Linked DNA regions of Homo sapiens. The protein of the gene in region 1 interacts with the protein of each later gene in a biochemical or structural test. Each region holds a gene or a part of one and is shown in the gene's direction. Other genes may lie near its edges. The genes, in order: TNFRSF13B, TNFSF13B and TNFSF13.

Evidence for each region.
Region 2: the proteins of TNFRSF13B (region 1) and TNFSF13B form a complex in vitro, tested with the Homo sapiens proteins (3 studies listed by BioGRID and IntAct, with this or other methods).
Region 3: the proteins of TNFRSF13B (region 1) and TNFSF13 form a complex in vitro, tested with the Homo sapiens proteins (2 studies listed by BioGRID and IntAct).

Annotation. Positions count from the first base shown.
Region 1 is NC_000017.11:16,968,746-16,976,197, reverse strand, and holds the start of TNFRSF13B (tumor necrosis factor receptor superfamily member 13B), read left to right. Parts: upstream 1-4,079; 5' UTR 4,080-4,122; coding exon 4,123-4,183; intron 4,184-7,452. UniProt on the Homo sapiens protein: Receptor for TNFSF13/APRIL and TNFSF13B/TALL1/BAFF/BLYS that binds both ligands with similar high affinity. Mediates calcineurin-dependent activation of NF-AT, as well as activation of NF-kappa-B and AP-1.
Region 2 is NC_000013.11:108,286,496-108,294,070, forward strand, and holds part of TNFSF13B (tumor necrosis factor ligand superfamily member 13B), read left to right. Parts: intron 1-307; coding exon 308-364; intron 365-7,575. UniProt on the Homo sapiens protein: Cytokine that binds to TNFRSF13B/TACI and TNFRSF17/BCMA. TNFSF13/APRIL binds to the same 2 receptors. Together, they form a 2 ligands -2 receptors pathway involved in the stimulation of B- and T-cell function and the regulation of humoral immunity.
Region 3 is NC_000017.11:7,553,816-7,562,266, forward strand, and holds TNFSF13 (tumor necrosis factor ligand superfamily member 13 isoform alpha precursor), read left to right. Parts: upstream 1-4,934; 5' UTR 4,935-5,224; coding exon 5,225-5,482; intron 5,483-5,808; coding exon 5,809-5,887; intron 5,888-6,030; coding exon 6,031-6,078; intron 6,079-6,233; coding exon 6,234-6,352; intron 6,353-6,534; coding exon 6,535-6,673; intron 6,674-6,908; coding exon 6,909-7,018; 3' UTR 7,019-7,183; coding exon of another isoform or gene 7,184-7,190; 3' UTR 7,191-7,786; downstream 7,787-8,451. Other genes in the region: TNFSF12-TNFSF13 protein, read left to right, coding at 2,963-3,087, 5,809-5,887, 6,031-6,078, 6,234-6,352, 6,535-6,673, 6,909-7,018; TNFSF12 (tumor necrosis factor ligand superfamily member 12 proprotein), read left to right, coding at 2,963-3,087, 3,284-3,535. UniProt on the Homo sapiens protein: Cytokine that binds to TNFRSF13B/TACI and to TNFRSF17/BCMA. Plays a role in the regulation of tumor cell growth. May be involved in monocyte/macrophage-mediated immunological processes.

The DNA of each region.
Region 1 (7,452 bases):
GACAAAGACGGTAAAATGTGAATTAAATGAGCAGATGTTACGTGTTTAGAACAGTGCCCTAAGTTTTCCCTGTTGTTACTCCCAATGATCACTGTAGGAGTTCATTTCAAAAGCTAAGAACTGTCCGGCAGGCTATACTAAATGGAAAAGGTGGCATGCTAAACAGCAACCTTGATCTGTATAAGCCAGCAGTTGTGTTAAAAAAAAAAAAAAAAGGTATGGAGGGGGAGGGAGAGGTGAAATATATCCTCTAGCGACACGCACATGCTCAGAAATGCCTAGGCTTTGCTGGGAGGCTGTATGAACAAGGTCCACTAAGGGTTGCCGCCTTTGAGTAGGGACATCATGGGCCTAGGATAACCAGACAGGAGAGAAATTTACTTCCGCCATATTCTTTTACTGCTTGAATTTTTTTCTTTACTATGTGTGCATTTTAACTCGCTAATTATACATATATAAATGAACCAGGTCCAAAACCTTAAGGTATATGAGTTATCTCTACTCTGGGTTCTAAATCTCTTCTGTCACCTTGGCTGTGGAGCTTAAAATTAGAATCCCGCATCCTCTTGGGAGACAGCTCAAAAAAAGGCTGGTCTCAGAATGAGCTTTAGAAACCTCCAGCACCTGTTCAATCTTCTGGGGGAGCCAGTGCAGAGGGGGAATCTATTTTTGTGTTTCATGAAACGATCCCATTTGTATGTTTCCATTTATACAAAGTTTGGGGAACAAGCAAAATGAATCTGTGGTGGCAGGAGTCAGAATTGTGACTCTCTTGGGGATGGAGTGGGGTGTGCTGGCTGGAAGGGGCAGTGAGGGACCTTCTGGGGGCTGTGCATGCTCTGAGTTGTGATCTGAGTTGTGGTTGCCTGGGTGTGCATGTATGAGAACACTTACTGAACTTCCCATTTTAAAAGGGTGCATTTCACTGTCTGTAAATTACACCATCTAATTAAAGAAAATAGAAAGCAAATTAAATCCATTCTCTGTAAACTGCATTTGAGCAAAAGCATTAACAAGCTGTGATTGGCAGTAAGACATTAGGGAACTCTGTCATTCAATTCTCAGCCACTCCCCAAATCAGGCTGGATTTTGTTTGTTTTTCATTTCAGGCATAACAGGTATTGGCTTTAAAACTCCAGGACAATGTGTGTGGCTGCAGAGAGCAGCATTCAGTCCCATGGAAGCACAGTCTGGAAGCACAGTCTGCTCACTGGACAAAGCTGAACTTGCTGTCTTTCCTTCTTCTCCTTCCTTCTCCTCTTTCTCCTTCTCCTTCTTCTTCCTCCTCCTCCTTTTTTTGCGACAGGTTCTCATTCTGTAGCCCAGGCTGGAGTGCAGTGGTGTGATCATAGCTCACTGTAGCCTTGAACTCCTGAGCTCCAGCCCAGTGTTGCAATCCTCCAGCCTCCCAAGTTGCTAGGACTACGGGTGCACACCACCACACCCAGCTAATTAAAAAAAAAATTAGGCTGGGTGCAGTGGCTAACGCCTGTAATCCCAGCACTTTGGGAGGCCAAGACGGGTAGATCACTTGAGGTCAGGAGTTCGAGACCAGCCTGGACAACATGGTGAAACCCTGTCTCCAATAAAAATACAAAAATTAGCCGGGAGTGGTGGCTCACTCCTCTAGTCCCAGCTACTCAGGAGGCTGAGGCACGAGAATCGCTTGAACCCAGGAGGTGGAGGTTGTAGTGAGCTGAGATCACGCCACCACACTCCAGCCTGGGCAACAGAGTGAGACTCGGTCTCAAAAAAAAAAAAATTATAGAGACAGGGTCGCTATGTTGCCCAGGCTAGAGCTGAGCTTTCTAACCATCAGAGCTACCCCCCAGGGAGCCAGCTGCTCCGTGAGGTGGTGAGAGCCCTGACCCTGGGGGTATGCAAACAGGAGGTGAGGGGGGACTCAGTGAGGGCATCCTGTAGTGACTTTGGGCTTGCCCATTTCAACAGGCAGAAAGTTCCTGGCAATGGGATCTCTTTCTTACCTCTCTCTTAGAAATCCACTGCCAGAGCCCAGCTATGGTTTTGTCACTGTTCATTGACACAAGTAATTAAATGTAAACAAGTAATTAAATGTAAAACCCCTACAAATGTAAAAGCCCTAAATGTAAAATGTTTAGCCCTACAAATAGGGCTAAAGTCCCCTTTGACGGTCACCCCCAGTCCTGGTTCCCTCTTGCCCCACCCGGCGAGAGCCAGTTTCGTCATGCATGTCTTTGCAGACTTCTTATGCTTCACAGTCATGTGTGCGTGATCACAGACAACACAGCGCTGTACTGTGTGTGTGTGTGTGTGCATGTTGTTTGCTTTTGGTTTTGTTTTACTAAAAGGCATCATGCTGTAAGGCTCATGCTATAAGCTACTTTTATTTACTCAGCGTCTGTCCTGAAAGCTTCGAGATTTCTCATTCTTTTAACTGTGCAATAGATTCCTGGCTCTGGCCTGTGCACCCTGCTTATTCAGGCATCCTCTGCTGCATGGACATTTACATTGTTTCCCGTTTCTCGCTGTCATGAGGAGGCTCACGGAGGAGGAGAATTTCTGGGGGGTGGGTTAGGTGTGTGTTGTGCATTTAACTGACCCTGGCTGGTTACTCTCCAGAACGCTGCTGCCAGCTCCCTCCCTCCAGTGGGCCCTGAGTTCATGCTTCTGTAGATCACCCCCCTGCCCTTGATGTTACCAACTTTAAAACTTTGCAACCTGATGGCTGAAAGTTAGTTTTTCATTGTTCAGTTGTTTTTCTGATTTTTGGGAGACTGGACATTTTCCTGTGTTTGCTGACCGTCTGCATCTCCTCTCCTGCTCTGTGCACCATCACCCTGCTCCAGCTGCTTCCTGCAGCCTCCCTCCTTCCTCTCCACCTCTCCATGTCCTCCTCGTCCTTCAGTTTCTTCCTAAGGGCCCATGGGCTTTCTTTGGCTTTTACGTTCCTCTCACTCCGCCTTTGGCTGTTGCTGGGCCTCCCATCCCCTGGGAGGTTTCAGACGATGGGGAAGACACAGGAGTGCAGTCGCCATGCAGTGCAATACGGGCTGTAATGTTCCTCCTCCACGGCCTTTATTGAGGACTTACTGTGTGCCAAGAACCTGCTCTAAGAATGTAACTGTGCTCCCTCCCTCATTTCATGCTCATAACCGCCTGTGAGGCGGGCAATGTTCTCATCCTTTTTTTTTTTTTTTTTTTTGAGATGGCATCTCTGTTGCCCAGGCTGGAGTGCAATGGCACGATCTCGGCTCACTACAACCTCTGACTCCCAGGTTCATTCTCCTGCCACAGCCTCCCAAATAGATGGGACTACAGGCACGCGCCACCACACCCGGCTAATTTTTTGTATTTTTTTTTAGTAGAGATGGGGTTTCACCGTGTTGCCCAGGATGGTCTCGAACTCCTGAGCTCAGACAATCCACCTGCCTCGGCCTCCCAAAGTGCTAGGATTACAGGCGTGAGCCACCATGCCCGACCTCATCCTTGTTTTACACAGAGAACATGGAGGCACAGAAGAGTTCCATAAATTGCCACCAAGGCCTTCTGCTAGTATGCAGCAGAGTCAAGATTCAAACGCAGGCTGTCCGGTCCTGGGGTTCAGCCTCTCCAGTGCTCTGCTAGGTGTTGGAGAGGGTCAAGGAGATACAGAGAATGAGTACCACCTGACAGGCTGGGACAGTCAGGGATGGCTTCCTGGAGGAGGTGACACCTCAATGGAGCCTTGAAGGAAGAGCAGGAGGAGCCGACCAGGCAATGAATAGAATAAGTATACCCAGGAAGAGGGAAAGGCCTGAGTGATGCTGGGAGGGTGGAGAGCTGGCCTGGCTTGGGGTGTGTGCCGGCGGGCAGGAGATGAGGACCAAGGGATGGCCAAGGCCAGATCTAGAAGAGCCTGGGCCATCCCATAGTCAATACCTCATCGCAAGGCCCGGCAGGCCTTCCACTGCTCTGTGTGTACCCCATGGGACGCCAGGAGCCTGGGCCGCAGCCACCCACCTGGGCTCCTGAGACCCAATGCACAGGCATGGGGGCGGGAGTGGGTGTGGCTGATTTACATCCAACAGGTTGAGGGGAAAACCCAGGAAGTGCAGCCCAAGCACTAATCAAATCTAAGACTAGTAATAAGCATCCTGAGTAATGAGTGGCCTGGGCCGGAGCAGGCGAGGTGGCCGGAGCCGTGTGGACCAGGAGGAGCGCTGTGAGTAGCCGGGCAGGAGGGCAGGAGGGCAGGTGGGAGGTGTGAGGAGGGTTGGGCCTGAGTGCCGTGGGGGTTGCAAGGTCCAGCAGGTGCAAAGCCCACAGCAGATCCACACACTGGGGCAGTCCCAGCCTCCCCAAGCTCCTGCACATGGAGAGCCCCGAGTCTGGATGCCTCTGGGATGTGGGGCTTGCCTTCCGTGACAGAAGCCACTGAGGTTGCAGGGTTGGCCACACCGGCAGGAATTCCCTTTGTCACCATGGCCCCTGCACAGCCCCCATTTTCCCCCTTACATGCCCGCTGGACCATTTTAATGCTAATCTCAAATACCAGATTGTTTGAGTTGTGGAGACCACAGGATTTATTCCTTAAGAACACAAACCCTAAAAACAAAACAAAAAACTAAGCATCATACCTTCACCCCTGCTGAAACAACAATTCCTGAACATCATCACATAGCCCGCCAGGGTTCAAACTGTACCAACTGTCTCACCAATGTCTTTCTCAGTTGACTTGTTCAAATCAGCCTGTCCCACATTAGACTTTTGGCTATGTTTTAATCTATAACAGTTTCCACCCATTTTTTCTGTTATATATTTATATTTATATTTATCCTATAGCTTTCTTTTTTTTTGTTTTGTTGTTTTGTTTTTGTTTTTGTTTTTTGAGACAGAGTCTTGCTCTGTCACCCAGGTTGGAGTGCAATGGCATGATCTCGGCTTTCTGCAACCTCCGCCTCCCGGGTTCAAGCCATTCTCCTGCCTCAGCCTCCCGAGTGGCTGAGATTATAGGTGCCCACCACCACGCCCGGCTAATTTTTTGTATTTTTAGTAGAGATAGGCTTTCGCCACGTTGGCCAGGCTGATCTCAAACTCCTGACCTCAGGTGATCCACCTGCCTCAGCCTCCCAAAGTATTGGGATTACAGGCATGAGCCACGGCACCCGGCCCGTATAGCATTTTCATCAGGGTGGGTTTCTAAGGTTTTATGAAAGGGCCCCAGGTCCTTTAGTGCAGACAGAACCCATGGCCAGATGGACCCGGGGCACAGCCTAGATTCACAGCCTCTGCCTGCTGCTCTGTCCCACACCTCAGGCAGGGAGCAAATTTGTTCTTCAGTCCTTTTTTGTGTCCAGCCACCAAGTCCCCAGAATCTACACAGCCAGGGGCTCAAATATGTAAAGTTTCTGAGAGACTTGGACAAGGCAGTGACCAGAGGCTGCCTTAACACAGGATGAAATTGCCCAGTGCTCTGGGGCCACGAGTCAGGACCCAGCTAGAACTGTGACCTGGCAGTGGCAGAAGCTGTCTGGTGCTGCCGAATCAGCCCTGGCCGGTTGTCCACTGGCCCACTCTGGGACCTTGGCTGAGCCGCTTCCCCTCAGTGTAAAATGAAGAAGACTGTCTTTCCTACCAGACATCCCTCAAACACACAAAAGTGCTTTGATGAAACTACCAGACCCCCTCTTGGGGAGTCATGAGGAAAGGCTCTGAGAAGCCCTGCGGTTAAAAAACTGCCTTGACTTTCTTTAACCCAGTGTTTTTCAAACTAATCCGACCACAGAGCTCTTTCTTGGTGCAGCACCTGTTAACCGGCCAAGCCCGTGAGGAGGCACAAGCAGAGGGCTCTGAGAATCACCCTCCTTGGCTGCTCTCTGGTCTCGGGGTGCAGGAGAGAGTCTCCATCCTGCATCCAAATTTGTGGCGGCCCAGAGTCTGAGCCCAGCCCACACAGCTAGTGTCAGAGAGGTGTTCCCTTTCTTCCCTTTCCATCAACGAAGCTTCTCTCTCAAGCTTCTATTCTGCCTGGCTGGTGTCAGTCATGGGGTTTTCCTGCCCTCCTTTGGCACTTGATGATGGTTCTGGGATTTTATGTAGGTCCACATGGTGGTAGAGGAGGGGGCGGGGACAGGCCCTCTGGTCAGCTTGGCATCTGCTGTCTGGTCAGTCAGGCACTGTCTCTCTGTCAGGTCCAGTGGCTTTTGGTGGCTTTGGTCCAGGCAATGAATGGGTCTTGGAACATCTCCAAGGCTGCCCTTGTCACATAGAACGTCCTGCCCACCTTCCACTCAACCAACCCTTCACGGTGATATGCGGCGGGTGGTGGCTTTCTCCCTCTTTGCTCCCCAACCCAAAAGTGGGGAGAATCGGGTCTGCCTTTAATTTTGTTTGATCCTTTGATTTTAGATTTGCCTTTGAATAGATAGTATAGTCAGATGGTTTGAAACCCAGAAAGTATTGAAAGATATATAATAGAAAGTCTTTTCTTCCTCCTTGTCCTCCATCTGCCCAGTTCCCACCTCCCCTAGAATAAGCAGCTTTATTTACATATAACTTACATGCCATGAAATTCACCTGTGTAAAGCATACAAGTCTGTGTTTTTAGTATATTTACAGAGTTGTGCAACCATCACCATAAGCTAATTTTGGAAGATTTTGATGACCCCAAAAAGAAACTTTGTCAGTCTTCATTCCTCCCTAGCCCCAGGCTAATCTACTCTCTGTCTCTATAGATTTGCCTGTTTTGGACATTTTCCATAAATGGAATCATATGTGATGTATTGTGACTAGCTGCTTCCACTTGGCATAATGTTTTCAAGGGCCGTCCATGTTGTAGCAGGTATCAGTACTTGCTTCAGTTTTGTGGCCAAGTAACATTCCACTTTATGGATATGTCATGTGGCTTTTCCAGTCATCGGTGGATGGACATTTGGGTTGTTTCTACTTTTTTTGTCACTGTGATTATTAAGAAAGCTTCTATGAACTTTTGGATTCAAGTTTTGGGTGAACATGTCTTCATTTCTCTTAAGTAGATAGATACCTACAAGTGGAATTGCTGGGTCATATGATAAATTCTATGTTTAACATTTTAAGGAACTGCAAAATGCTTTCCAAAGCAGCTGCACTATTTTATAATTCACTTCATGCATGAGGGTTCCAATTTCTCCACATCTTCACCGACATTTGTCATTGACTGTCTTTCTCATTCTAGCCATCCCAAGGGGTGTGAGGTGGTATCTCACTGTGGTTTGGATTTGCATTTCCCTAGTGACAAATGATGTTAAGCATCTTTTCATGTGCTTCTTTAGCCATTTATATGGTTTTTTTGGGGAAAATGCCTATTGAAATATTTAGCCCATATAAAAATTGGGTTGCCTTTTCATTATTCTGTTATAAGCATTCTTTATATATTTTGGATACAAGCTCCTTTTCAGGTATAATATTTGAACCTATTTTCTCCAAGTTAGTGAATTGTCTTTTTACTTTCTT
Region 2 (7,575 bases), on another chromosome or scaffold:
AAAACAAATGATTAAACTTGCTTTCTCTTCAGCCATTTCTCAGAGCAAATTAGGTTAAACTGTAAGGGTGATATTATATTTTAACAGCACATAGAGCTTTTCTGAAATGTCATGAATTTCATATATATATATCATATATATAAATCAATGGGCAAATATAAAGTAACTTTAAGAATAATGTCATGCAATCAATGTAAAAAGTATAATTGATTTAGTGTTTCTGGAAGAGTGGGTTTCTAGCTTTGTGTTCTCAGTTTCTTTATTATTTCTACTCAAGTAACTAAAATGATAAATTTTTGCTTTTTAGTCACTCAAGACTGCTTGCAACTGATTGCAGACAGTGAAACACCAACTATACAAAAAGGTAATAAAATATAGCAAAGACTTGGAACCAAGCCAAATGTCCATCAATGATAGACTGGATTAAGAAAATGTGGCACATATACGCTATGGAATACTATGCAGCCATAAAAAATGATGAGTTCATGTCCTTTGTAGGGACATGGATGAAGCTGGAAACCATCATTCTCAGCAAGCTATCGCATGTTCTCACTCATAGGTGGGAACTGAACAATGAGAACACATGGATACAGGAAGGGGAACATCACACACCGGGGCCTGTTGTGGGGTGGGGGGAGGGGGGAGGGATAGCATTAGGAGATATACCTACTGTTAAATGACGAGTTAATGGGTGCAGCACACCAACATGGCACATGTATACATATGAAACTAACCTGCATGTTGTGCACATGTACCCTAAAACTTAAAGTATAATAAAAACAAATAAAATATCCCCAGTACTTTTTCCACTTAGAATTCAGTCCACTCCAAATATTTGTAAGTTTCAAGTCTAAAGACTGTATTTGAATTGCATGTAAAATCAATCAGCCATCTCAGAACTTCTTATAATCAGGTAAAAAATAATAAACCTACATTTATTCAAAATGACTTGGGAATAAATAATAATTAAGACCAAAGTAATAATCTAATAAGGAGAATGACCTTAGAGGCACGAATACTTAGAAATGTTAAATAATTAAACTACAATAAAATAAAAACCAATAATAAATCAAATTCCATTTTTATTATTTAGACAGCATTTTATCTTTAAGAATGACTCAAGACCATCTTCACAAATATGAATTCTCCTGTTATATTCAATTGTAAAAATCATAGAAAGAGGAAAATAAAACTGAACAGATTATTAAAAATCTGTATTTTTAAAATAAATTTCCAACATCAAATTATTGCTTGATAATTTACCGTTTTCTCACAGAGGTAGAATGTTTTACATTTTTCAGTTATTTGAAGCCTTTTTTAGTTTTAATTTTAGACAAGTTAAGTGTTTTCCATAATAATGGCCTGAAACCAGGTTTACAAAGAAACAACTTTTAATGTCATTTCCCAATATGTGTCACCTAGAATGTTAATCCAGAGAAATGGTCCTTGAAATAAGAGTTTCAGTGTCGTATAAGTTTGGAAACACAGCATCTTACATATTTTTCTTTGAGTCACAAGGCACATTAGCAAGTTATTGAATCTAAGTAGTCCTACTTTAAAAAATGTTTGTTTAACTTTGTTTCATCCAGTTTTTCACAAATTTTTGTGACTATGCTGCTTTATCATGTATCGACCTCTCTCTGAAAGCAAATGGGAATTGATGCTCTATAATAGCATTTGTTTATATAAGATAACTAGTGAACAAAAATGTACTAAAAAAGAACCATTCGTTCACTCACACATTCATTGATTCATTTAGTTTACATTTATTAATTAAGAATATACAATATTTTAATTACTGTATGTTTACTGGGTGTATCAGTGACTAAAATATGCACAAATGCTCCTTGGCTTACAATGGAGTTATGTCCTGATAAACCCATCCTAAGCTGAAAATAACGGGCCTTGAAAAAAGCAGTTAGGACATCTAACTTACCAAATATCATAGCTTAGTCTAGCCTACCATAAATGTGCTCAGAACACTTACATTAGTCTACAATTGGGCAAAATCATCTAACATGAAGCCCATTTTATAGTAAAGTATTGAGTAGCTCATGTTGTGTTTTGAATACTGGAATGAAGTATGATTTCTCCTGAATGTATGTGGCTTTCACACCTTTGTAAAGTTGAAGATTCTAAGCCAAACCATCGCAAGTCCATATGCATGGTTTTCTACTTTGAAAGAGCTTACCTCTTGATGAGGAGAAAACAAACGAAAGGCCCAACAACCCACAAATGAACAAGTAAAATGTAGATGAGACGAAATGCTGTGGAGGGCAGCAAAGCAGGCGGGGGCAGGAGAAAGTTTTGTGTTGTGAACGAACTACGAGTTCAGGAGTATCTGGAGGTTAGGCTAGGCGATGAGGAATGGGCAAAACAACACTAGCACAGATGATGAATGTGAGTTGGCACTGGTAATGATTCCCTGGCATGCTCTTTTCATCTGTGTTTTTTTCTGCGTGACTTTAATTGTCCTAAATGCAACACAAGTACTAAACTACTTGTAAATCTATTATTTATTGTTCAACATTTTCCTAAATCATGTTTGCAACTTTTAATAAGCAGCACACTGTTTCCTAAGAAGTAAAAGAAAGCCAGAAGATCTTAAGGGCCAAAGTTACAGTTTTTAAAAATTCTTTTGAAAAGGTTTACTTTACACATCTCTCCCCCACCCCCCAAAATGCTATAAATTGCACCAAATTATGCAGCTGCTATACTCCAATGTGCGTGTGAACTGGAGAGTATGCTGTGATCTTCCTGGAGTGGTGACTGCTTGCCACAGATCCAGGGGTGCTGAACTGGGGTGATTACCTGGGATGCTTGCTTGCAGTGCTCCAACCTTTAGGATGGACAGGTTGCCCTTGTGATGTCAGCAAACCCTTGACCAGTATATAAATGTGAGTGTGCATGGGCATTTAGCAGGCAGATTGCATTTAGCAGGTAGGTTGCATTTTGTTAAAAAAGGCTGTACTCACTAAAGCATTTTACTTGCACAGGTCCATAAGAAGACTTCTGGGAAAAGATAATAATATATTATTAATATTATTAGCATATTATATGTAATTATATATTATATAATATATAATGTATTATAATAATTATATATAATAATATATTATTATCTTCTGGGGAAAGAATTTATATATATAAATATTATTAGCATATTGTATATATTATCTTATTGTATTATACATAACATCAGGTCTTGAGATGAAATCATGTTATGTATTCCAGAGACATGGAGATTCAAAGGAGCGGGGCTACGTTCATCTGATATTTTGAGTTCCTATGCTTGCTCTGCCCCATACTTTTGTCCAGACAGTGAGGGCAGAGGTAAACTTCACAAAAGAGAAAAAGACAAGAGGGGTTTATCAGAGTGTAGTCTCATGTCTTTTCTGTTCATTTGTTTTTTTGAATTTTAATCTAGATTTTGAATAGGTAATGCATTCACACGTTGCAAAAAATAAAAAAGCATGAAGAGTGTGGATTGCTCCTTTTCCCATCTGTTCCTGCCCACACTCACCTCACTTTCAGTTTCCTACATAGACTTCAGACTCCCTCTATGTTAACACAAACAAATGCAAATGTAGCTCTGCTTCCCTCCTTTCTTATAGTAAACACTTAAAAACCATATTTTCAATACATATGATTTGAAAATGAGATTATAACCTGCATTCTTTACTTAACAATGTATATTGCAGACATTTTGATGCCTGTGTACAGAGATCCTCATATGAAAAAAAAAGCAGCATAGTATTCCATTGTATGAATTGAATGTATTTAACCAGTCTCCTACCAATAGACTTCTTGGTGTCCATCTTTTGCAATGCAGGTGCTTCGAAAAATAATTGTGTGCATCCGTAACTTCTCATATGTCAGCCTATGTGTGGGACAGATTTTGAATTTTGACAGTTATTGCTAAGTGGTCCTATAGGGGTTGTAAAGTGTTATGCTATCACTTGCAGCAAAAGAGCATCAGGTGAAAAATAGCATCTCTTAATTTGCTTTCTTTCAAGCCATTCTTTTGTATGTTTTAAGAACCATTTGTATTTCTGTCTTTACATTCTTCCAATTTTTCATGTCTATTTTTATTTTTTTCTGTGAGCCATCTGTTCATATTTTTTTCCATTTTTTCGTTGGACTTGGTCATTTTTAAACTGATTTCTGTGAGCACCTTATATCTCAAGCAGATTAATTCTTTATATTACTAATTGCAAGCATTTCCTCCCATACTGTCATTTGTCTTAATTTTGCATACTTTTTTTTTCTGTCAAATTTGTCAATTTTTTTAAAGGATTCTGGATTTGGGTTGTGATTAGAAAGACCTTTTACACTTAAACGTATTAAGGAAAGATCTCGTGTTCCTTCTGAAACCTTTATAGTTATTTTCTACCTTTAAATACTTTATCTATTTGCAATTTATCCTGGTATAAGATGTAAGGTATGAAACCAACTTAATTTTCCCCTGTGAGGGCATCACAGTCTTTTTTTAATCGCCCATCTTTTCCAGACTGCTTGAAGACATTAACTTTAACTTTTATTAAATTCCATGTTTAGTCTATGTTTTTTTCACTTTTTAAATACTTTTCTGTTATACCATATTGACTTAATGTCTATTTATGCACCCCAATAAAATGGCATTTTGGTTACTAGGGCTTTGTATTATTTTCTGGTAAATTTAATTCACTCATTTTTTCTTTTTACTTCTAGAATTTTTCTTTTTTTTCTATTAAATATAGGAACTGTAGAATCAGCTTACTTAGTTAAAAAGAAAAAGAAAAATACGTGCTATTTTTGTTGAATCTCATATTTATAAATTAAGAAAAATACCCTCATGATAACAGATGTACAGATCAAATCCAAGAACATGATATATATTTATATTTTTTTAGTCTCCTTTTTTTTCTTTTAGTATGTATTGAAATTTTCTTCAAGAAGTTCTTGCATATTTCTTATTAATATCATTACAAAGTGTTTTACCTTTTCAAATGCTATGATAAATAGAAACATTTTCTTTCATTATATTTTCCAGCTGGTTGTTCTTTTTGTGTATAAAAGCCTTGAATTCCATGATATATCTTTTCAATATTAAAGTTGAAATGTTTTCTTTTATTTTTGGATTGCATTTCCCTAGCATGACTTTGCCCAAAATTTTACTTTTAACTTCTCTGAAATAATTTTTCTGTGTTTCTCATGTATGCAAAACAGAGTTGCTCTTTGTTTTTTGATATCATCTTAAAATAATTTTCATTTATTGGGTGATATAAATCAATTTACATTTACTTATTTCAGAAATGTATTTGGCTTTTATTCATCATAATGTGCTATACTGTGTATTGTTTTTCATGTTAACAAAAGAGTTTCTATTTTATAGTTTTAAAGAGGTTGCTTACTATGTAGGCTATTTGCTTTGCTTTTTCTGTTAGCGTAGACTTCTAAATGCTAAATACTAGGGGTAGCTACCTTTTCAGTTATATCTTTTTATTGAAATTAAATTCATATAACATAAAATTAAATGCACAATTCATTGTAATGTAGTATTCACAATATTTTACAACCACCAACTCTCTCTAGCTCCAAAATATTTTCTTCAGCCCCAGAGAAAATCCTGTATCCATTAAGCAATCAGTTACCATTTCTCTGTCTCCCCATGCCCCTGTACCAGCAATCTGCTTTATGTCTCTGTGGATTCACCTATTTTAGATGGTTTATATAAAGGCAGTCACACAATACGTGACTTTTAGTGCCTGGCTTCTTTCACTTAGCATGATGTTTTGAGGTTCACCCACATTCTAGCATGTATTCATACTTCATGCCTCTGTATGAATGTATATCATTCTATTATAAGTAAGCCATAATTTCATTAAGGGTATTTGGTTTGTTTCCACCTTTTGGCTATTGTGAGTAGTGATCCTGTGAACATTTGCATAAAGTACTTCCTGAGTGCCTCTTTTCAATTATTTGGAGTATACATCGATGAATCGATGAGTAGAATTGCTGAGAAAATGTCAACCTGTTCTCTACAGTGCTGCAACATTTTGCCTTCCCCCCAGCAATGTACTAGTGTTCTAATTTTTCCACATCCTCACTGACACATCTTATTTTCAATGTTTTTATTAGTATTGCCTTCCTACTGGGTGTGAAGCCATATCTCTGTTATTTATTTGCATTTTCCTTATGACTGATGATGTTGAGCATCTTTTCATGTCCTTTTTGGTGTCTTCTTTGGAAAAATGTCTATTCAAGTACCTTGTCCATGTGTTTTAATTGGGTTGTTTGTCTTTTTGTTGTTGAGTTGTAAAACTTCCTTATATATTATGGATACAAGACCCTTATCAAATATCTGATTTGCAAGTATTTTCTCCTCTTTTGTGGATTATCTTTTTACTTTCTTGAGAATGTCATTTGAGGCACAAGAGTGTTGTACATCAGATAAATGAAGTAAAATTTATCTTTTTTTTGTTTCTTGTGATTTTAGTGTTATCATTGAAGAACTCATTGCCAAATTCAACATCATGATTCACCCATATGTTTTCTTCTAAGAGTCTTGTAGTTTTATGTCTTATATTTAGGTAATTAATCTATTTTAATTCATTTTTGTATATGGTGTGAAGCAGAGGTCCAAAATCATCTTTTAGCATGAGGATATCTAGTTGTCCCAACATCATTTGTTGAAGAAGATGATTTCTTCCACATTGAACGGTCTTGGCACACTTGTTAAAAATCAGTTGTACGTAGATGTATGGGTTTATTTCTGTACTCTCAAATTTATTTTGTTTCTTTATACACCTCGCCTTATGCTGGACCACTATACTATTTGGATTACTGTTATGTTATAGTAAATTTTGAAATTTAGGATAGTGAATCCTTCAATCTTGTTATTTATTTTTAAGATTGTTTTGGCTATTTGATACTCTTTTGCAATAACAAATGAATTGTAAGGCTGGCTTTTTCATTTTGGAGAACAAAAGGTCACTGAAATTTGTATATGGATTAGACTGAATCTGTACATAATACTGAGTATTACTGCCATCTTAAACTAAATCTATCAATCCATGAACACAAGATATCTTCTCTTTTATTTATATGTCCTATCATTTCTTATAGCAATCTTTTGTAGTGTTCAGTGTTAAAGTGTTTTATGTCCTTGGGTAAATTTACTTCTAGGTGTTATGTTCTTTTGAATGCTGTTTAGTCAGTTCAGTTTGCTATAACATATTACACTAGACTGAGTGGATTAAACAATAAAAATGTATTTCTCACACTTCTGGAGGCTGGAAAATTCAAGATTAAGGTGCCAACAGATTTGGTTTGTGAATGGTGGTCTTTTCATTGTGTTTTCACATGGCTGAGAACAGAGACAAAAGCAAGTTCTTGTGTCTTTTCTTATAAGGACATTAACCCATCCTGAAGGCTGTGCTACCACAGCCTAGTTATTTCCCAAAGGCACCACCCCCTAATACCATCACATTGGAAGTTAGAATTTCAACATATCAATTTTGGGTGACAGAAATATTCAATCCATAACGGATGCTACTGTAAATGGGATTCTTTTTTAAAATTTCCTTTTTAGAT
Region 3 (8,451 bases), 9.4 Mb from region 1:
AAGAGACCAGGTGGGTTTGTAGATTTGCTGGGGGGAGATGAGGGAACCTTTGCTCGATGACTTCTAGGTCCTCTGGACAACTAGGGAGATGGAGACAGGAGATTTGAGGAGAAATGGTACAAAATCTCAACTTGCTGATTATGAAAGCAAGCTTCGTGGGGGAATGTAAGATTGCCAGGCAGGACGGAATGTCCAGGTGAGGTTTGTGGCTGGAGACAAGTGATATACCAGGCAAGCCCTCCGTGCTCCTGGGCACACCATGCCCTTAGGCTACAAGCAGCCTTTGCTTAGGCTGGCTTCGTAGCTAGGAATGCCCTCTCTTCTCTGCCCTCCCTACTCTTCATGCCCAGATCAGCCTTCCTCCCCTCTGTATAGACCACTTATTTTGGCAATTATCCAGACATTCATTCATTCATTGACTCAACAGGCATTGAAGACCTACTGTTTGCTAGGGGCCAGGCTAGGTGCCCACAGCAACTAATATCCAGACTCTTTTTTTTTTTTTTTTTTTTTTTTGAGATGGAGTCTCACTCTGTCGCCCAGGCTGGAGTGTAGTGGCGCGATCTCGGCTTACTGCAAGCTCCGCCTCCTGGGTTCATGCCATTCTCCTGCCTCAGCCTCCCAAGTAGCTGGGACTACAGGCGCCCGCCACCACGCCTGGCTAATTTTTTTTTATTTTTTAGTAGAGACGGGGTTTCACCGTGTTAGCCAGGATGGTCTCGATCTCCTGACCTCGTGATCCACCCAACTCGGCCTCCCAAAGTGCTGGGATTACAGGCGTGAGCCACCGCGCCCAGCCGGTCAGACCCATTTTTTTTTTTGAGATGGAGTTTTGCTCTTGTTGCCCCAGCTGGAGTGCAGTGGCGCCATCTCGGCTCACTGCAGCCTTCTCGGGTTCAAGTGATTCTCCTGCCTCAGTCTCCCGAGTAGCTGGGACTACAGGCGCCTGCCACCACGCCTGGCTAATTTTTTTTTTATGTTTTAGTAGAGACGGGGTTTCACCGTGTTAGCCAGGAGCGTCTCGATCTCCTGACCTCGTGATCCACCCACCTTGGCCTCCCAAGGTGCTGGGATTACAGGCGTGAGCCACTGTGCCCAGCCTCAGACCAACTCTTAAGGAGTCACTGTCTAGGAGAGGAAACAAGCATATAAATTTGTAATTACAGGAACATACAAAAAAAATTAGCCAGGTTTGGTGGCACATGCCTGTAATCCCAGCTACTCAGGAGGCTGAAGCATGAGAATCACTTGAACCCGGGAGGCGGAGGCTGCAGTGAGCCGAGATTGTGCCACTGCACTCCAGCCTGGGTGACAAGAGTGAGACTCCATCTCAAAAAAAAATTTGTAATTACAGTGGAATATGACAAGAACAATAATAAAAGTGGCCAAGATACCTGGCAACACAGGGGAAGACAGACATGGCTGTGGAGTCAGGGATTCTCTCCCTGCATCGCAAGGTGCCGCTGGGCCTTGAAGCAGGAGCGTAAGACAAGACAGGCAAGGGGTCAAGAATGGTGGGTGCAAGCAGAAGCAGCCCCTGGGGCAAAAGCCCCGGGTTTGCCCAGAGCATGATGAGGCTGGGGGACTCTAAGTTCAGCGTGGCAGAAGCAGAAAGTGCTAGAGGAGCGAGATGGGGATGAGGCTGGAGACAGAAGCCAGGCCACACGGTGGCATGTGGGAACTATTCTGAGGTGAGCCATCGGAAGGAGGAAGGCGAGGCGAGGCGGGCTTACGTCTGCATCTTAGAGACTCATTCTGTGGCTTTGTGTAGGGAATAAACTGGAGGAAGCCAGAATGGAAACAGGGAATGCTGTGAAAACCAGACAGAGGCACCAGATGGGGGAGAGAGGGGAGAGAGCTATTTAGGAGGCAGGATAGATAGGAACTGGTGATCGATTAATGATGTAGGTAAAGGAGAGGGAGGCTTGAATATCCCCCTGGTGGCAAAACCAGAAGCCAAATGTGGAAAACAGACAGTAAAGCAAGAGTGGGATGAGGGGGGTCAGCTCAGTGTTGGTTGAGATGAGTTTGAGGGGCTATTGCTGTTCAGATGGTGCAGTTGGCAGGGTAAGGAAGGGAAGGAAACTTCAGGGCTGGAGACTCTGCAGAGCACAGGTTGTGGGAACCCATTGGTGGAAATAAAAATGCCCAGTGAGCGTTTTTTTTGTTTTTTTTTTTTTTTGGAGACAGAGTCTAGCTCTGTTGCCCAGGCTGGAGTGCAGTGGCATGATCTTGGTTCACTGCAACCTCCCCATCCCAGGTTCAAGTAATTCTCCTGCCTCAGCCTCCCATGTAGCTAGGATTACAGGTGCCTGCCACCATGCCCTGCTAGTTTTTGTATTTTTAGTAGAGACGGGGTTTCACCTTGTTGGCCAGGCTGGTCTCGAACTCCCGACCTCAGGTGATCCGCCCACCTTGGCCTCTCAAAATGCCGGGATGACAGGCGTGAGCCACTGCACCTGGCTGAGCATGATGTTTTCAAGGCACATCTGTGCCATAGTGTGTATCAGTACTTCACTCTTTTTATGGCCAAATAATATTCCATTATATGGATAGACATTTTGTTGATGGACAATTGGGTTTCATTTTATTATTTTTAGTTGTACTAATTCAGATAATGTATGTTTACATCCTCCATATAAAAGAAGCAAATAATATAGATATCCATGAAGTAAAACATTAAATCCCCTCACGCTTCTCCTTCAGTTCTACTCTTCTCCCCAGAAGTGACTGCAGGTGACAATCTGCCCTGAATGTCTCTGGCCATATACATTAGATTTTTTCACATAACTTCCTAGTCAACTATGGGCATCATAGGGGATGGGTCCTCCCTTGCCCGGGGTGATCTATGTGTCTTCTGGGTAAAGTGGGCGCCGAATGTTCATATGCTCAATGGATCCCTGGGGAGTGTGGGGGAGTCCTGTAGAGAGACGTTTCCTTATCTCTGAGCATCCGTGTTCAGGTGTGGACGGGACAGTGAGTGGCTGGGAGGAAGCCAGAATCAACAGCTCCAGCCCTCTGCGCTACAACCGCCAGATCGGGGAGTTTATAGTCACCCGGGCTGGGCTCTACTACCTGTACTGTCAGGTAAGCCCCATCTGGCTGCATGGGTAACGCAGTAAGAGAGTGGCGAAGGGTTTGCCAGGAGAGTGGGGGACAAGCTACAGGGCTGGGAGGGTGAGTTGGGGTTTGGGTGGGATGGGATGCCTGCGTCGCTGAGGAAATTGGAAATTGAGGCGAGGGCAGGCAGAGGCCTGGACTCGGCCTGTTGTCCCCACCCCAGGTGCACTTTGATGAGGGGAAGGCTGTCTACCTGAAGCTGGACTTGCTGGTGGATGGTGTGCTGGCCCTGCGCTGCCTGGAGGAATTCTCAGCCACTGCGGCGAGTTCCCTCGGGCCCCAGCTCCGCCTCTGCCAGGTGTCTGGGCTGTTGGCCCTGCGGCCAGGGTCCTCCCTGCGGATCCGCACCCTCCCCTGGGCCCATCTCAAGGCTGCCCCCTTCCTCACCTACTTCGGACTCTTCCAGGTTCACTGAGGGGCCCTGGTCTCCCCGCAGTCGTCCCAGGCTGCCGGCTCCCCTCGACAGCTCTCTGGGCACCCGGTCCCCTCTGCCCCACCCTCAGCCGCTCTTTGCTCCAGACCTGCCCCTCCCTCTAGAGGCTGCCTGGGCCTGTTCACGTGTTTTCCATCCCACATAAATACAGTATTCCCACTCTTATCTTACAACTCCCCCACCGCCCACTCTCCACCTCACTAGCTCCCCAATCCCTGACCCTTTGAGGCCCCCAGTGATCTCGACTCCCCCCTGGCCACAGACCCCCAGGGCATTGTGTTCACTGTACTCTGTGGGCAAGGATGGGTCCAGAAGACCCCACTTCAGGCACTAAGAGGGGCTGGACCTGGCGGCAGGAAGCCAAAGAGACTGGGCCTAGGCCAGGAGTTCCCAAATGTGAGGGGCGAGAAACAAGACAAGCTCCTCCCTTGAGAATTCCCTGTGGATTTTTAAAACAGATATTATTTTTATTATTATTGTGACAAAATGTTGATAAATGGATATTAAATAGAATAAGTCATAGTCTCTCTCTTTATTGGGGCTCAGGGGACACTCTCAGGGTAGCTGGGGGCCACGTGAAGGGGGGCGTTGCGGAGCGGCACAGCTGGAACTCCGGGATGATGTTCAGGCTTGGGGGCGGGGACCTCCATGCCTCCAGCCCCCAGGTGGGAGCAGAGGTAGGAAGGCACACTGCCCAGGAAAAAAATCAATCCTCCGCCCAAGGTACAGCAGAAGCGGCCTCCTTGGCCTAGGAGGCAGACTTCCTCCTGCGGGGAAATCCCTTCCTGGCTGGGAGGAGCAGGGGCCCTTCCTCTTGGTGGCCTCGGACATTCAGCAGGTGCTGGCACAGGCCCTGGCTGGGAGGTGGGGCGGGCAGGAGCCAGCCTGGAGGAGGGGCTGAGAGTCAGCAGGCACACGGGAACCCGGAACCCTGTGTGCTGGGGAGGAATCCCGCAGTGGCCGGGGGGCTTGAGGCCGCTGCTTTGTCTCTTCGTCCAGAGCCTTATGTAAGAGCTTTTCTCGGGAAACAGGAAGTCCTGCTTGCCAATTTCAGCACAGGGAGTAGTGCAGGCCTTATTCCAACACACCCGGCCCAGCCTTAACCCCAGAACTCAGCCAGTTTCTTGCTTCCGTGCCCCTGGTTCTCCTCCCCATCGAGCCCACCCCTCCTTTCCCACCTTCAGTCACCCCTAGTGAACTGCCCCAGCGATCTCTGCTGTGCTTGACCCCGAGGGTCTTCCACCCTCGCCCTGACCCTGGACACTGCCCAGCTTGGCCCCCCATCCTGCTCCTGGCACAATGCCCTCTAGCCAGCCAACCTTCCCTCCCCCAACCCTGGGGCCGCCCCAGGGTTCCTGCGCACTGCCTGTTCCTCCTGGGTGTCACTGGCAGCCCTGTCCTTCCTAGAGGGACTGGAACCTAATTCTCCTGAGGCTGAGGGAGGGTGGAGGGTCTCAAGGCAACGCTGGCCCCACGACGGAGTGCCAGGAGCACTAACAGTACCCTTAGCTTGCTTTCCTCCTCCCTCCTTTTTATTTTCAAGTTCCTTTTTATTTCTCCTTGCGTAACAACCTTCTTCCCTTCTGCACCACTGCCCGTACCCTTACCCGCCCCGCCACCTCCTTGCTACCCCACTCTTGAAACCACAGCTGTTGGCAGGGTCCCCAGCTCATGCCAGCCTCATCTCCTTTCTTGCTAGCCCCCAAAGGGCCTCCAGGCAACATGGGGGGCCCAGTCAGAGAGCCGGCACTCTCAGTTGCCCTCTGGTTGAGTTGGGGGGCAGCTCTGGGGGCCGTGGCTTGTGCCATGGCTCTGCTGACCCAACAAACAGAGCTGCAGAGCCTCAGGAGAGAGGTGAGCCGGCTGCAGGGGACAGGAGGCCCCTCCCAGAATGGGGAAGGGTATCCCTGGCAGAGTCTCCCGGAGCAGGTGAGTGAGGGGAGGAGGGTGTCTGGGAGAGGATGGTTAGCATGGGGGGTCTCTGGGCCTCCTGGTCTGCAAAGTTTCAAGGGGGTGCAAGAGAGGGTCTCCGGTTTGGAAGTCAGGGGCGCGGCCATTCCAGGAAAGGAAACTGTTAAAGGTTAATGCTTCTCATACCTAACAAATCCTGGAGGGCAGCCAGCACCAACACTCAGGGTGCTGGGAAAAGGTGCGTGAGAGATCTGAGGCATCTCGGGGGCAGGGGAGGGCTGGGAAGGCAGGCTGGCTGGGACCCTCGCATCTTAACCTAACCTTGACCCTCTTTCCATGAGCAGAGTTCCGATGCCCTGGAAGCCTGGGAGAATGGGGAGAGATCCCGGAAAAGGAGAGCAGTGCTCACCCAAAAACAGAAGAGTGAGGCTTCCAGGGTGCAGCAGGGGTGGGAGGTGATCAAGCAGCGTGGGGATTGTAAGCCCGAGTCAGGGTGAGGGTGGAGGCTGCCAACAGCACAACGGGGGAAAGTGGATGCGGCTGAGATTCCCTCCTTCTCTCCTCAGAGCAGCACTCTGTCCTGCACCTGGTTCCCATTAACGCCACCTCCAAGGGTGAGCACTATTTTAAATAATGGCTTTGGGGAGGGGCAATAACCAGGAACTCGGGCTGGCACTTGGGCTCAAGGGGTCCTTATAGGTGAAAGGGAAAGAACCAAAAAGCACCTGAGAGTGCCAAGAAGTCCTGACCGACACACTCTCACCTCCAGATGACTCCGATGTGACAGAGGTGATGTGGCAACCAGCTCTTAGGCGTGGGAGAGGCCTACAGGCCCAAGGATATGGTGTCCGAATCCAGGATGCTGGAGTTTATCTGCTGTATAGCCAGGTAACCCCAGCCACACTCTGAGCTTCACAGAGGGCCTCTTTGGCCCCCTACTGAGGGTTCCTGACCCCTCTATTCATACCAAACCCAGCAGACCCTTCTTTCTTCCCTCGTTAGCGCTCCTGAGGCCTCCCAGAACTGAGCCAGGCCATCCTGTTTTCTTCAACATCTCCCTTCCCTGCCAGGTCCTGTTTCAAGACGTGACTTTCACCATGGGTCAGGTGGTGTCTCGAGAAGGCCAAGGAAGGCAGGAGACTCTATTCCGATGTATAAGAAGTATGCCCTCCCACCCGGACCGGGCCTACAACAGCTGCTATAGCGCAGGTGAGAGCCGTGTGGGCAGCCGAAAGCAGGACGTCTCTGACCGGGGGTAGCAGTGCAGGGAGCTACCGCTAGGAGGGAGGTTGGAAACCTAAACAGAGGCGGGTCTGAGGAGTGAAGTGCAGAATGCCGGGTCCTTACAGGAGGCAGAGGAACGGTGGAGCTGGAGAAGGCAGGGGGAAACAGGGCATCTGGATGGCTGTGCTTCACTGCGAATCTACTTTCTCTCTTTTCTCAGGTGTCTTCCATTTACACCAAGGGGATATTCTGAGTGTCATAATTCCCCGGGCAAGGGCGAAACTTAACCTCTCTCCACATGGAACCTTCCTGGGGTTTGTGAAACTGTGATTGTGTTATAAAAAGTGGCTCCCAGCTTGGAAGACCAGGGTGGGTACATACTGGAGACAGCCAAGAGCTGAGTATATAAAGGAGAGGGAATGTGCAGGAACAGAGGCGTCTTCCTGGGTTTGGCTCCCCGTTCCTCACTTTTCCCTTTTCATTCCCACCCCCTAGACTTTGATTTTACGGATATCTTGCTTCTGTTCCCCATGGAGCTCCGAATTCTTGCGTGTGTGTAGATGAGGGGCGGGGGACGGGCGCCAGGCATTGTCCAGACCTGGTCGGGGCCCACTGGAAGCATCCAGAACAGCACCACCATCTAGCGGCCGCTCGAGGGAAGCACCCGCCGGTTGGCCGAAGTCCACGAAGCCGCCCTCTGCTAGGGAAAACCCCTGGTTCTCCATGCCACACCTCTCTCCAGGTGCCCTCTGCCTCTTCACCCCACAAGAAGCCTTATCCTACGTCCTTCTCTCCATCTATCGGACCCCAGTTTCCATCACTATCTCCAGAGATGTAGCTATTATGCGCCCGTCTACAGGGGGTGCCCGACGATGACGGTGCCTTCGCAGTCAAATTACTCTTCGGGTCCCAAGGTTTGGCTTTCACGCGCTCCATTGCCCCGGCGTGGCAGGCCATTCCAAGCCCTTCCGGGCTGGAACTGGTGTCGGAGGAGCCTCGGGTGTATCGTACGCCCTGGTGTTGGTGTTGCCTCACTCCTCTGAGCTCTTCTTTCTGATCAAGCCCTGCTTAAAGTTAAATAAAATAGAATGAATGATACCCCGGCTCCATTTCCCCCACTGCCTCGCCTCAGCCCGGTCCTCGTACGGGGATCTCCCGCCCTCCTGGCTCTCCTGTGGCGCGCCCCCCGCCGGATCAAGGTACTGGGGATGCCGCTAGGGTCAGGCCCGCGAGCGCGGAGAAGACAGAGCGCGGCGCAAAAGGGAAAGTGGCGGGGCCGCCACGCGCGGCCGGGCGGCGGATGTGCGCAGGCGCAGCCTCGCGTAGCGCTCTGGGCTGGCCAGTCCCGTGGCGCCGGCGTCCTCGGGTAGACGGGACCGCGCGCTTGGTGGCCGCGCCGGCGCTCTTCGCCGGGTGTGACGTACTAATCGTGCGCCACCGCTGCCGGTGGGCCCGGGGCTCGCGGGAGGGGAAGGAGGAGGGGGGGAGGAGTGGCGGCGGCGGCGGTGGCGCTGGTGGCGGCGGTGGCGGAGGTGGAGGTGGAGGTGGAAGCTGAAGCTGAAGCAGAGCCAGAGGCGGCGCGGCGGGGTGCTCGGCGGCGCGGCACGCGGCCCAGAAGCGTTGGAATCCTGAATTGAGACGGCTGCGCCTAAAGACAGCAGGAGTGGCGGGGCCGCCGCCGTCGCCGGAGAGATGAGCCGGGAAGCTTGAGGCCGGAGACGCCCGCCTTCGGGCCCGTCCGCCCGGCTTCCCCGCTCCCGGTG